3 linked regions of the Homo sapiens genome follow. The protein of the gene in region 1 purifies or fractionates together with the protein of each later gene. This does not show direct contact. Each region holds a gene or a part of one and is shown on either strand. Other genes may lie near its edges. The genes, in order: FAM131C, RHBDF2 and AGPAT2.

Region 1 (3,646 bases):
TGAACAAGGTCATTTGTTGAGACGGTGGTGGGCTTGGAGGACTCCTGGCTCCCACCCCCTCCCCAGCCCGCCTGGCTCCCCACCTCAGTTGGGGTTCAGGTGCCTCCACCAAAGCTGCCTGCTCCCCCTGAGGACTTTGGCCCCATGATGTCACAGGCTGGTTGCCATGGGGACGTCAGGTAATGAACCAGCCCAGGGTGAAATCACAGGCTGTTCTTCGCCCAGCTGGGACTGGTGGTCACGTCACCACTGGCAACTGGAAAAACACAGAGTGTCATGTGGGGTGGGGGCTGGGAGGCAGCCCGAAGGGACCGCTAGCACCTGCTCCTGTGGCTCCCTCTCCCAGAAGGACACCCCCTTTCTTTCAGTCCACACCCTAGTCTCCTGACCTCAAGGTCAGAATTCCCTTCTCAGACCTGCTCCCTCCCCCACCTCCTCTGTCCACAAGAGTGACAGGCTTCTGGCTGCCATGGCAACCTGGAGAGGGCCATCTTGATTCTTCAAGGAGAGGGTGTCAACCAGATGTCTCCTCCATCCCTCTGTCTTCAACCAGAGCTTCTCCTCTGCATCTTGAGGGTGCTTCCTGCCTTCCTATGCCAGCTCCTCTTCAATCTGCTTTAGAGTCTAACCTCCCAGACAGTTCCTCCTGATGTCTAGCCTAAACCCCTCTTGTTGCAGTTCCCATACTGGTTGGTCTTCTCTACTTGATCCTTGGGTGAGTCTGCAGCACAACCCCTCAGGCTCCTCTCGTCTGCTTCAGGGCCTTCCAACTCCTTTAAGCTGTTCTCTGGGGCTCCGTGTCCCAACCCATTAGTCACCATGGTTGCCATCTACCCCAAGAGTGCCTCCCAGGGCTCTGCACCCCAGAGGGCAGAGAGGGACCGTGTTTGACTCTGCAGCAGCCCAGGGAGGGTAAATATCCTCTCAAAACCACACAGAAACTGAGCAGCAGCCTGGGGTCAAAGCGTCCCCTCATGCTCCTCCCCGGCCAGCCTCGGGCTTCTCTGCTCAGCTTCTCAGGGCACCTGCAGCCGATGCGGCCCCTCTAGCCAACCATTGCCCGGGTGTGTACTGCCCAGCTGTGATGTGCCGGGCTCTGCCCTTGGCTCTGAAGAGAACGTAAGCGGCCAAGGCATTCCTCTTACGGTCCCTGAGCTGGGTTTAAGTCCCCGCTTCTCACTTTCCGCTGCAGGGGGTGGGCATGGGACTTAGCCCCTGTGAGCCTTGGATTCTCATCTGTGAAATAATACCAGCCCAGAAAGGGCTGCAGCAAGGAGGAAGCACCTGCCACAGCAAGCAGTCCGTAAGCAGCAGCCGCTCCACCCCTCTCCCCTCAGTGTCTCTCTCTGGACAATGGGACACATCTTGGTCAGCCACTCCTCTGGTCCTGTCCCCAGGGCTGGAGCTGGCTCTGGAGGCTCCGCAGAGGGAAGCCCTTGAGGGTGAGTCCTTGGCCGCTCTGCCTGTTGAGTCACTGCCAGGGGAGCAGGCCACAGAGCTTGGCAGAGGCCAGGCCTCGAGTGGACTGAGTGTCCCCTCCTCCCCAGGACATTTGTTTACAGGTCACCTGAGCCGTGACAATAGCTCATCTGTGGGTTGGCTCAGCTCAGAGCTATCCAAGGGGGTCCCTTTCTCTCCCCGTGCAAGGATGGAGAGAGAAAATGGGCTCCTCCCCAGGACTTCCACACACCCCAGCTCCTCCCCACTTCCTTCCCCAGGCTCCCTCCCATCCTGTGACCTGGCCTCTGGGAACATCTTGCTCCAGCCTCACCTCCCACAAGCAACCTGCCCAGATTGGCCTCTGCTGGATTAGGTACCTCACCTGTGGTCCTAATGGCCAAAGTCTGGCCTGCAGTGATTTGCCGCCACTGTTTACTGAGCAGGTGTGACAGTACTGTGTCAGGTACTGTCTGTCCTAGGCCTGTTCACCCATGATCTCTCATTTAACCCACACAACAATCCTGCAAAGTACATGTTATGCCCATTTTACAGATAGGGAAACGGAGGCTCAGAGAGGATAAATCACTTATGCAAGGTCACCTGCTAATAAGCAGCAGAGATGAGGGTCACACTTCGGCCCTTGTGAAACTCCAAAGCTTGTGCCCCAACCACTAAACAGTGCTGATCTCCAGACAGGGTCCTCGGGGCATCCTTCCAAGGGTTCATGCATACTGCCTCCCCCATTAGGCTACTCCACGGGCAAAGCTGTACCTCTCTCATCAGACTGTGAGCTCCCGAAGGGCAAGGTCCCACCTACCCTTTCCTCAGTGCCTGGTGTAGGACTGCTCAGGACTTGGAAACTATGGGTGGCTCTGGTCGGCCCCCTTAGAGCTTGTGCCTTCACCCAGACATGATCAGATGTCTGAGTTTCCAGAAGAAAATTCTCGGTCTCTAATTTCTACTCTCACCCCCGACCCCACCGGCCCCCAGTGCATTGGATACCCCCAAGGTGGGGCCAGGAGGCTGATCAGTTGGCCTGGAGGAGAGGGCTGGGGCATGAGTGAGGAGGCAGAGTGGTTATGGCACCAAGGGCATGGAGCGGGTACTGAGCCCCTGGAACTGGAGAGAAGGGGGGCAAATATTCCTCTCTGTTCCATACAGACTGCCATTGGTTGCAGAGCCCCCAACAAATAGGGACCATTCAAGTGTTCCAAGAGGTTGTTTTTCTAAGCACTGGCCATATACTTAGCACCTCTTTTTGTTTTTGAGACAGGGTCTTTGTTGCCCAGGCTAGAGTGCGGTGGAGTAATCACAGCTCACTGCAGCTTCGACCTCCTGGGTTCAAGCCATCCTCCTGCCTCAGCCTCCCAAATAGCTGGGACTACCAGCACACACCACCACAGCTAGGTAATTTTTAAAAAGTTTTTTGTAGAGATGGGGTCTCACTATGTTGCACAGGCTGGTCTTGAACTCGTGGGCTCAAGCGATCCTCCCGCCTCAGCCTCCCAGTATTTAGATTATAAGCGTGAGCCATAGCACCTCTCTCTCTATAGGGACGTAAGAAAGCAAAGGACGGGGTTTCCACACTCAGGCTCTGGGGTCACATTGACCTGGATTCAAGTCCTGCCTCTCCATGCCCTGGCCATGTGACCTGAGGGAAGACCCTCCCGTTCTCTGAGCCCCACATCCCTTGTCACAGGGTTGAATGAGAACTAACTAGGTCAGGAGAGCAAAGGCTCAGCCTAGCTCAGGATAAGCGCTCAACAAACGGTAGCTTAAAAATAGATAATGAATGCAAAATAGCTCCTGGAAACAGCATTTGTTGCCTTAATCTGGTCCCAATCACTTTCTCAATGTCCTCAGCACCTCGAGTGCCTGCCACCCGCTGCCTTTCCCATGAGGCAGGATGTGGCTTAAAACCTCTGTAGGTTTCCCCTTCCAGCCATGAAGGCCCACATTAGCTGTCTGCACAGACAGGTAATAAAAATTAAAGGCCGGGTGCAGTGGCTCACACCTGTAATCCCAGCACTTTGGGAGGCCGAGGTGGGAGGGTGGCTTGAGGCCAGGAGTTCGAGATAAGCCTGGGCAACATAGTGAGAGCCTGTCTCTATTATAATATATACAATATTAAAATTAAAAGTAAAAATGAGAGCAATAGCTAATATGTACGAGTGCTTACTATGTGTTGGGTACTGGTCTGAATGCC
Region 2 (3,646 bases), on another chromosome or scaffold:
AGTGAGCCTCCAGGTGAGGAGATGGTGGAGGTGAGGTGGAGATGGTGGAGGTGAGGTAGAGATGGAGGAGGAGGACAGGTTCAGATGGCTGCTGTCTCGCCGACCCGTGCATGCCACGCCTCAGCCCACACACGCCCTTGGCTGAAGGGCTCCCAGGGAGATGGGTATGGAGTCCCTGGCTTCGTACAAGGAGAGGAAAAACAAAACTTGCCCAGGAACCTTGGGATGTGAAGGAGAGGAAACAGCTGGGGGGGTTTATTTTTATTTTTATTTTTATTTTTGAGACGAAGTTTCGCTCTTGTTGCCCAGGCTGGAGTGCAATGGTGCAATCTCGGCTCACTGCAACCTCTGCCTCCCGGGTTCAAGCAATTCTCCTACCTCAGCCTCCCGAGTAGCTGAGATTACAGGCATGCGCCACCACACCCAGCTAATTTTTTGTATTTTTAGTAGAGACGGGGTTTCTCCATGTTGGTCATGCTGGTCTCGAACTCCCGACCTCAGGTGATCTGCCCACCTTGGCCTCCCAAAGTGCTGGGAGTACAGGCATGAGCCACCGCGCCCGGCCACAGCTGGGGGTTTTAACAAGAAGACGGTCATGGGGCAGAGCAAGAGACGAAACGAAGAGAATGAAACAGGCAGAGGGTGTTAATTCTGGTGGAGTCAGAGGGGAACTGGGGACTGGTGGCACACGCACAGGAAAGCCCCAGATGGGGTACTGGGCAACAGCCACTGAAATTTGGGATGTACTTACTCTTCAACCCAGCCATTCTGCTTCCAGAACTTGGTCTTGTAATAGTTAAACAAGCACACGCGGTGTATGCAAGGGTGTTAGTTGCAACATCAGACCCATGTCTCAAATTCCGGAAACATCCTAAATAACCAGCAGTCTGGACTTAAGTAAATCTTGGTGCATTCCACTTATGAAATCTTTGCATTCATCAAAAAAGACAAGAGGCCTAGGGCCGGGTGTGGTGGCTGAAACCTGTAATCCCAGCACTTTGGGAGGCCGAGGCAGGTGGATCACCTGAGGTCAGGAGTTCGAGACCAGCCTGACCAACATGGAGAAACCCCATCTCTACTAAAAATACAAAATTAGCTGGGCGTGGTGGCGCATGCCCGTAATCCGAGCTTCTTGGGAGGCTGAGGCAGGAGAATCACTTGAACCTGGGAGGTGGAGGTTGCGGTGAGCCGAGATCGCGCCACTGCACTCCAATCTGGGTGACAGAATGAGACCCCATCACAAAAAAAAAGAAAAAAGAAAAAAAGTAGGTCTGTCCGTATGTGTTGACAGGGAAAGATGTCTACAATGCAGGTAAAATGATAGAGTGTGGGCTGGGCTTGGTGGCTCACGCCCATAACCCCGGCTACTTGGGAGGCTGAGGCAAGAGAATTGCTTGAACCTGGGAGGTGGAGGGTGCAATGAGATTGGCTCACAGCAATCTCTTCCTCTCGGGTTCAAGTGATTCTCCTGCCTCAGCCTCCCGAGTAGCTGGAACTACAGGAATGAGGCACTATGCCTGGCTAATTTTTGTATTTTAGTAGAGATGGTGTTTCACTGTGTTGGCCAGGCTAGTCTCGAACTCCTGACCTTAAGTGATCCATCCACCTTGGTCTCCCAAAGTGTTGGGATTGTACGTGTAAGCCACCACACACAGCTGTGTGATTTTTTTTTTTTTTCAATGAGCATATGCCACTTTTATTGTTAAACAGTGTTCTCACTATGGGGGAGAAAAGTGCCAGACAGGTGGCAGTTTCAGTTATCTTTTTTTTTTGAGACATTTTCTCACTCTGTCGCCCAGGCTGGAGTGCAGTGGCATGATCTTGGCTCACTGCAACCTCTGCCTCCTGGGTTCAAGCAATTCTCGTGCCTCAGCCTCCCAAGTAGCTGGGATTATAGGCATGCGCCACCACACCTGGCTAATTTTGTATTTTTAGTAGAGACAGGGTTTTACCATGTTGGCCAGGCTGGTCTCAAACTCCTGACCTCAGGTGATCCACCTACCTCGGCCTCCCAAAGTGCTGGGATTACAGGCATGAGCCACGCACCCAGCCAGTTTTAGTTATCTTTGAAAAATGAACTGGGGCTGGGCACAGTGAGCTTGCACCTGTAATCCCAGCACTTGGGAGGCCAAGGCAGGCAGATGGCTTAAGCCCAGGAGTTCCAGACCAGCCTGGCTAACATGGAGAGACCCCCACCTCTACAGAAAAAAGACAAGAAAAATAAACTGGGTGGCCTTGGGGGACAGGGACCAGCACAGTAGGTTTCTCATCTCTCGGCCCACCTCGGCCTCCCCAAGTGCTGGTATTACAGGTGTGAGCCACCGTCCCTGGCCTGCATCTTCATGCTCTTTTCAGGGTTTGGTTCTTGCCTCAAGCGGAGAGATCAGAAATTGAATGAGGTAGTAAGTTGAGGACCTCCCAGACCCATATGGTCCGGGATGCAAATGATGGTCAGAAATAGACCTCACTCCAACCACTGGGCCTGAGGTTCAGCCTGGTTCAGGCTGGGTTTAGTCCCCAGGGATGGTTTGTTTTTGGTTTTGTGTGTGTGTGTGTGTGTGTGTGTGTGTGTGTGTGTGTGTGTGTGTGTGTTTTCAGACAGAGTCTTGCTCTGTCGCCAGGCTGGAGTGCAGTGGCGCGATCTCGGCTTACTATAACCGCTGCCTCCTGGGTTCAAGCCATCCTGCCTCAGCCTCCCGAGTAGCTGGGATTACAGGCACGTGCCACCACGCCTAGCTAATTTTTTGTATTTTTAGTAGAGACGGGGTTTCACCATGTTGGCCAGGATGGTCTCGATCTCCTGACCTCGTGATCCCCCCACCTCGGCCTCCCAAAGTGCTGGGATTACAGGCGTGAGCCACCGCGCCCAGCCGCCCAGAGATGTTTGAACCAACTTTAGGCAAGTTGGTTCTTGGTCTGGGCTGCGTGCCCTGGCGTCAGGGTCCTGACACTGCGCCACCCCGCACCGCCCACCGCTGCTCTCCCGGTCTCCATTCCAGCCCTCCCGCCTCCTGCCCACAATGGCCTCTGCTGACAAGAATGGCGGGAGCGTGTCCTCTGTGTCCAGCAGCCGCCTGCAGAGCCGGAAGCCACCCAACCTCTCCATCACCATCCCGCCACCCGAGAAAGAGACCCAGGCCCCTGGCGAGCAGGACAGCATGCTGCCTGAGGTAAGGGGGCTGGCCTGGGGGCTCACTGTTCTGCCGTAGGTAACAGATGTACCCACGTGACACTTTCTGGTCAGTTTCACTTCCCAGAGGGGCTCCTTCCTGAGCCACAGCTGCTGTCTGTGCAGCCCTTGACTCGGGCCCTACCCCCTCCTTCCTGGGCCCGAAATATCACAGGGAGTAAAGCCAGGAACCGGGCTCACTCTCATCGTGGTCAGGGGCACACAGGAAGGGCCAGCCCCAAGAAAGTGCTTGCTGGTAACCCTGGGGCCCTGGCTGTTCTCATTTCACCCCCTAGGCCTGGACTCTCAGTCTCTCTTCTGAGGGCTGGGGGCTTTCTTTGACATGGGTGAGCAGGGGACAGTGTCTCCCTGGCATCAGCAGCCCGCCTAGGCAGTGTCCGCTTCCTTTGGGAGGACGAGAACAGATCAGTGTTTCTGACAGTCTGGTCTAGTGCCCCATAAAGAGCTCATTGAAAA
Region 3 (3,646 bases), on another chromosome or scaffold:
CTCGTCCCCGGGACCCAGCCCCACACAGCCCCAGCTCAGCCGGCCCCACTCAAACCCCAGAAGCCACCCCCGAGGCCCGGCCTACCCATCATGTCCAGGATGCTCTGGTGGTTGGAGACGATGACACAGGGACGGGCCTCCTGCAGCCTGCGCGGGTCCCGCACCTCGAAGCGGAGCCCGTAAAAGTACTTGAAGCTTCGCACGAACCAGCCGATGATGCTGCAGGGGAGGCCACCATGAACACGGGTCCCACAGATCCCGCAGCCGAGGCTGGGGCGCGAAGGCCTGGGGGTGGGGTGTGGAGGAGGCTGGGGAGGGGCCCTCCTGGCACGGGGCAGGAGACCGGGAGACACAGGGGAGGGAGCCCCTGAAGCGGACAGAGTCCCGGGCCCGGCTCACCCACCTGGACGGCTGCCCTGCCTCCGTCTCCCCAGCAACAGAGGAAAACCCAGAGCCTCTGGAACTCGGATGCTAGGAGCATGGGAAGGCGCCCACTTCCAAATCCACATCCAGGGCCCACCCAGCCCTCATCCACCCCACAGGGGACCCAGCCGGAAAGGAACTGGCACTGGCTCTCACGTCCGCTATGAAGGACCCACGTCGGGGAGAGCAGCCTCTGCACCCCAGCAGAGGAAATGGGGCCCCACACACCCTGGGGAAGGTCACTGGCCCCTCAAGGCAGGGCCACATCAGGAAGAAAGTGTCGGCGCCAGTGGAGACCTCTGAAACGACCTCCGAAAGGTTCTTCCAGAAAAGAGCCGAGACCGAGACCCTCTCTCACCCCTACCCTACAGAATCAGGCCGGTTCCCTTTCCCCGTGAAGAGGCGGCGAGGGGCTCGGGGCTTGTCTGAGGTCACACCAGGAGCAGCAGCAGAGCCAGGGTCTGGGCCACCTGAGCCCTGGCCACAGCAGCCCCCACTCTGGCAGGGGCCCAGCCCACTGGGGGCTGCCCTTGGAGCACCTGCAAATGTGAGGTGGCCTTGTCCAAGCAGCCCGTCATGGTTGGGACCAGGGATGTCCAAGGGGTACCCGAAGACTCTGACCAGCTCCGAGCGTCCCAACCTCTGCCCTGCTGTGCTGCCAGGAAGCTCTGGGCACACCCCAGATAGGGCACCCCATCACAGGGCAGCCGGCGGGGATGGAGCCAGGAGGACGGAGCTCCACTCCGAAGCTCCAGCAGGGGTGGATGGCCGGGGCAAGGCTGTGCCAGCGCTGACTGGGGGGCTGCCAGTGCTGCTCCCCTCTCCATGCAGACTAGTGCCCCCCACCATTTGATCCCCCAGCAGTCCTAAGGGCCCCACACTTTCTACAGATGAGTCTGAGTAACTGCCCCAGGCCACAGAGCAGAGATTCAAAGCCGGGGCCTTCTCTCAAAGCCATACTGGTGGGGATTTTTGTTGTTTTAACAGGGTCTTGCTCTGTCACCCAGGCTCCCCTTGCTCTGTCTTGCTCTGTGACACAATGTGTCACATTGTGCAGTGTCACAATCTGGGCTCACTCCAGCCTCCACCTCCTGGGCTCCTCCCACCTCAGGCTCCTGACTAGCTGGGACCACAGACGTGAGCCACCACACCTCGCTAGTTTTTGTATTTTTGGTACAGATGGGCTTTCACCATCTCTGGCCAGGCTGGTCTCGAACTCCTAGGCTCAAACAACCTGCCGACCTCGGCCTCCCAAAGTGCTGGGCTTACAGGCCTGAGCCAACTCGCCCGGCCTTTAAAAAAAAATTGTGGTAAAATACACGTAACATAAAATGTATCTCCTTGGCCTTTTCCGGGTGCACAGTTCATGGGCGCTGGGCACATTCGGTGTCTAGCAGCCATCTCCTCCCTCTATCTCCAGAACTCTCCACCTTCTCTGGCTGACGTCTGTTCCCATGCGACACAAACCCCTGTCCCCTCCCCAGCCCTGGCACTCTGCCCTTCCATGTGTGAGCCCAGGCCTGCGGCAGCACCACCTCAGGCTGATGGGGCAATGCTCATGACCCCCTGTTGCAGATGGGGAAACTGAGTCAAGGGGGGCCTAATGGTTAATTCTGGTGATGAGTCCAGCCGTCCGTCCCTGGACTTGGAAGCCTGGGGCCTCCTCAGATCTGCCTTCCTCAGCCAACTCTAGATATCTCCTCTCCAGGCCGCGCCGGCCACCGTCCCCTCCCACCCAGAAGGCACACCCGGGCTGGTAGCACCCGCACACTCAGGGGAACTGCAGGGCTGTTTTGCCTCCACACTCATTTGCGCAATCCAGCTTCCCGGACCCCTGTGACGCTCCAAGAAGACGAGGAGGCAAAAGCCGGCAGTTCACCAACAGGAAACACAGAACTGTCTGGTGCTAGCAAGACGGCCGTGTCGCCAATCAAAGAAGCGCAAATGGAAACAAGAGACTGTCCTCATCCTTCCCCCTGGCACAGATTAAAACGCCTGATAACAGGAGGTGCCAGCCAGGGTGTTGGGAACAGGCCCAGCGGCTGGCAGGAGTGAGGAGTCGCACAGACAAGATACTTCTGTGGAGGGCAGGTTGGCAGGCCCGGCCAGAGCCCTGAGGAAACCTGGCCCCTCCCCTCTCAGAATCTTCCAGGAATTCGCCCGACGGCTGGAGTGAGAAGCCTGTGGTGCTGAAGTGTGCAGTGAATTAGGAAAACCTGAAAATGCTTAAATAGCCACCAGTAGAAAGAGGGAAAGTAAATTAGGGTCCATTTCACAGACAGCTGGGGCGCGGGGAAAGAACAGGACAGGTCCACACTCATCTCCTGTGAAGGACATGTGTATGATTTCTAGCAGCAGCCAAGACACACCTGCAATTCCAAAGCTAGCTGCCTGCAGGAGGCTCGGGCCACATCTGAAAGGGACATTGGTTCCCTCTGGTAGTGACATTGGCCAGTTCCATCTTTTATTTACTTTTTTATTTTTGAGACAGGGTCTCACTCTGTCACCCAGACTGGAGTGCAGTGGTGTGATCTCAGCTCACTGCAACCTCTGCCTCCCGGGTTCAAGCAATTCTCCTGCCTCAGCCTCCTGAGTAGCTGGGATTACAGGTGCCTGCCACCAGGCCTGGCTAGTTTTTGTATTTTTAGTAGAGACGGGGTTTCACCATGTTGGCCAGGCTGGTCTCGAACTCCTGACCTCAGGTGATCCTCCCACCTCGGCCTCCCAAAGTGCTGGGATTACAGGTGTGAGCCACCGCGCCCGGCCAGCTAGTTTCTTAGTGTTAACAACTGCATCTTGGTGATGTAAGATGTTAACAAGGGAGGAAACTGGTGAGGGCCACATGGGGTCCCCCGTAATATCTTTGCAACTTCTCTGTAAATCTGAAATTATTAAAAAATAAGATCTTCATTTATTTTTTATTTTTTTTGAGACGGAGTCTTGCTGTCACCTAGGCTGGAGTGCAGTGGCGAGATCTCAGCTCACTGCCATTTCCACCTCCCGGCAAGCGATTCTCCTGCCTCAGCCTAGCAAGTAGTTGGGACTACTGGTGTGCGCCACCACACCCGGCTAATTTTTGTATTTTTAGTAGAGACGGGGTTTCACCATGTCGGCCAGGCTGGTCTCAAACTCCTGACCTCATGATCCGCCCGCCTCGGCCTCCCAAAGTGCTGGGATGACAGGAAGGAGCCAGCGCGCCGAGCCCTCCTCTGTTTTGATTGTG

What was found.
Region 2: the proteins of FAM131C (region 1) and RHBDF2 purify together in Homo sapiens (affinity purification with mass spectrometry; one large-scale study listed by BioGRID and IntAct). This does not show direct contact.
Region 3: the proteins of FAM131C (region 1) and AGPAT2 purify together in Homo sapiens (affinity purification with mass spectrometry; one large-scale study listed by BioGRID and IntAct). This does not show direct contact.

The regions. Positions count from the first base shown.
Region 1 is NC_000001.11:16,067,078-16,070,723, forward strand, and holds part of FAM131C (protein FAM131C), read right to left. Parts: intron 1-3,646.
Region 2 is NC_000017.11:76,480,899-76,484,544, reverse strand, and holds part of RHBDF2 (inactive rhomboid protein 2), read left to right. Parts: intron 1-2,999; 5' UTR 3,000-3,020; coding exon 3,021-3,170; intron 3,171-3,646. UniProt on the Homo sapiens protein: Regulates ADAM17 protease, a sheddase of the epidermal growth factor (EGF) receptor ligands and TNF, thereby plays a role in sleep, cell survival, proliferation, migration and inflammation. Does not exhibit any protease activity on its own.
Region 3 is NC_000009.12:136,677,338-136,680,983, forward strand, and holds part of AGPAT2 (1-acyl-sn-glycerol-3-phosphate acyltransferase beta), read right to left. Parts: intron 220-3,646; coding exon 86-219; intron 1-85. UniProt on the Homo sapiens protein: Converts 1-acyl-sn-glycerol-3-phosphate (lysophosphatidic acid or LPA) into 1,2-diacyl-sn-glycerol-3-phosphate (phosphatidic acid or PA) by incorporating an acyl moiety at the sn-2 position of the glycerol backbone.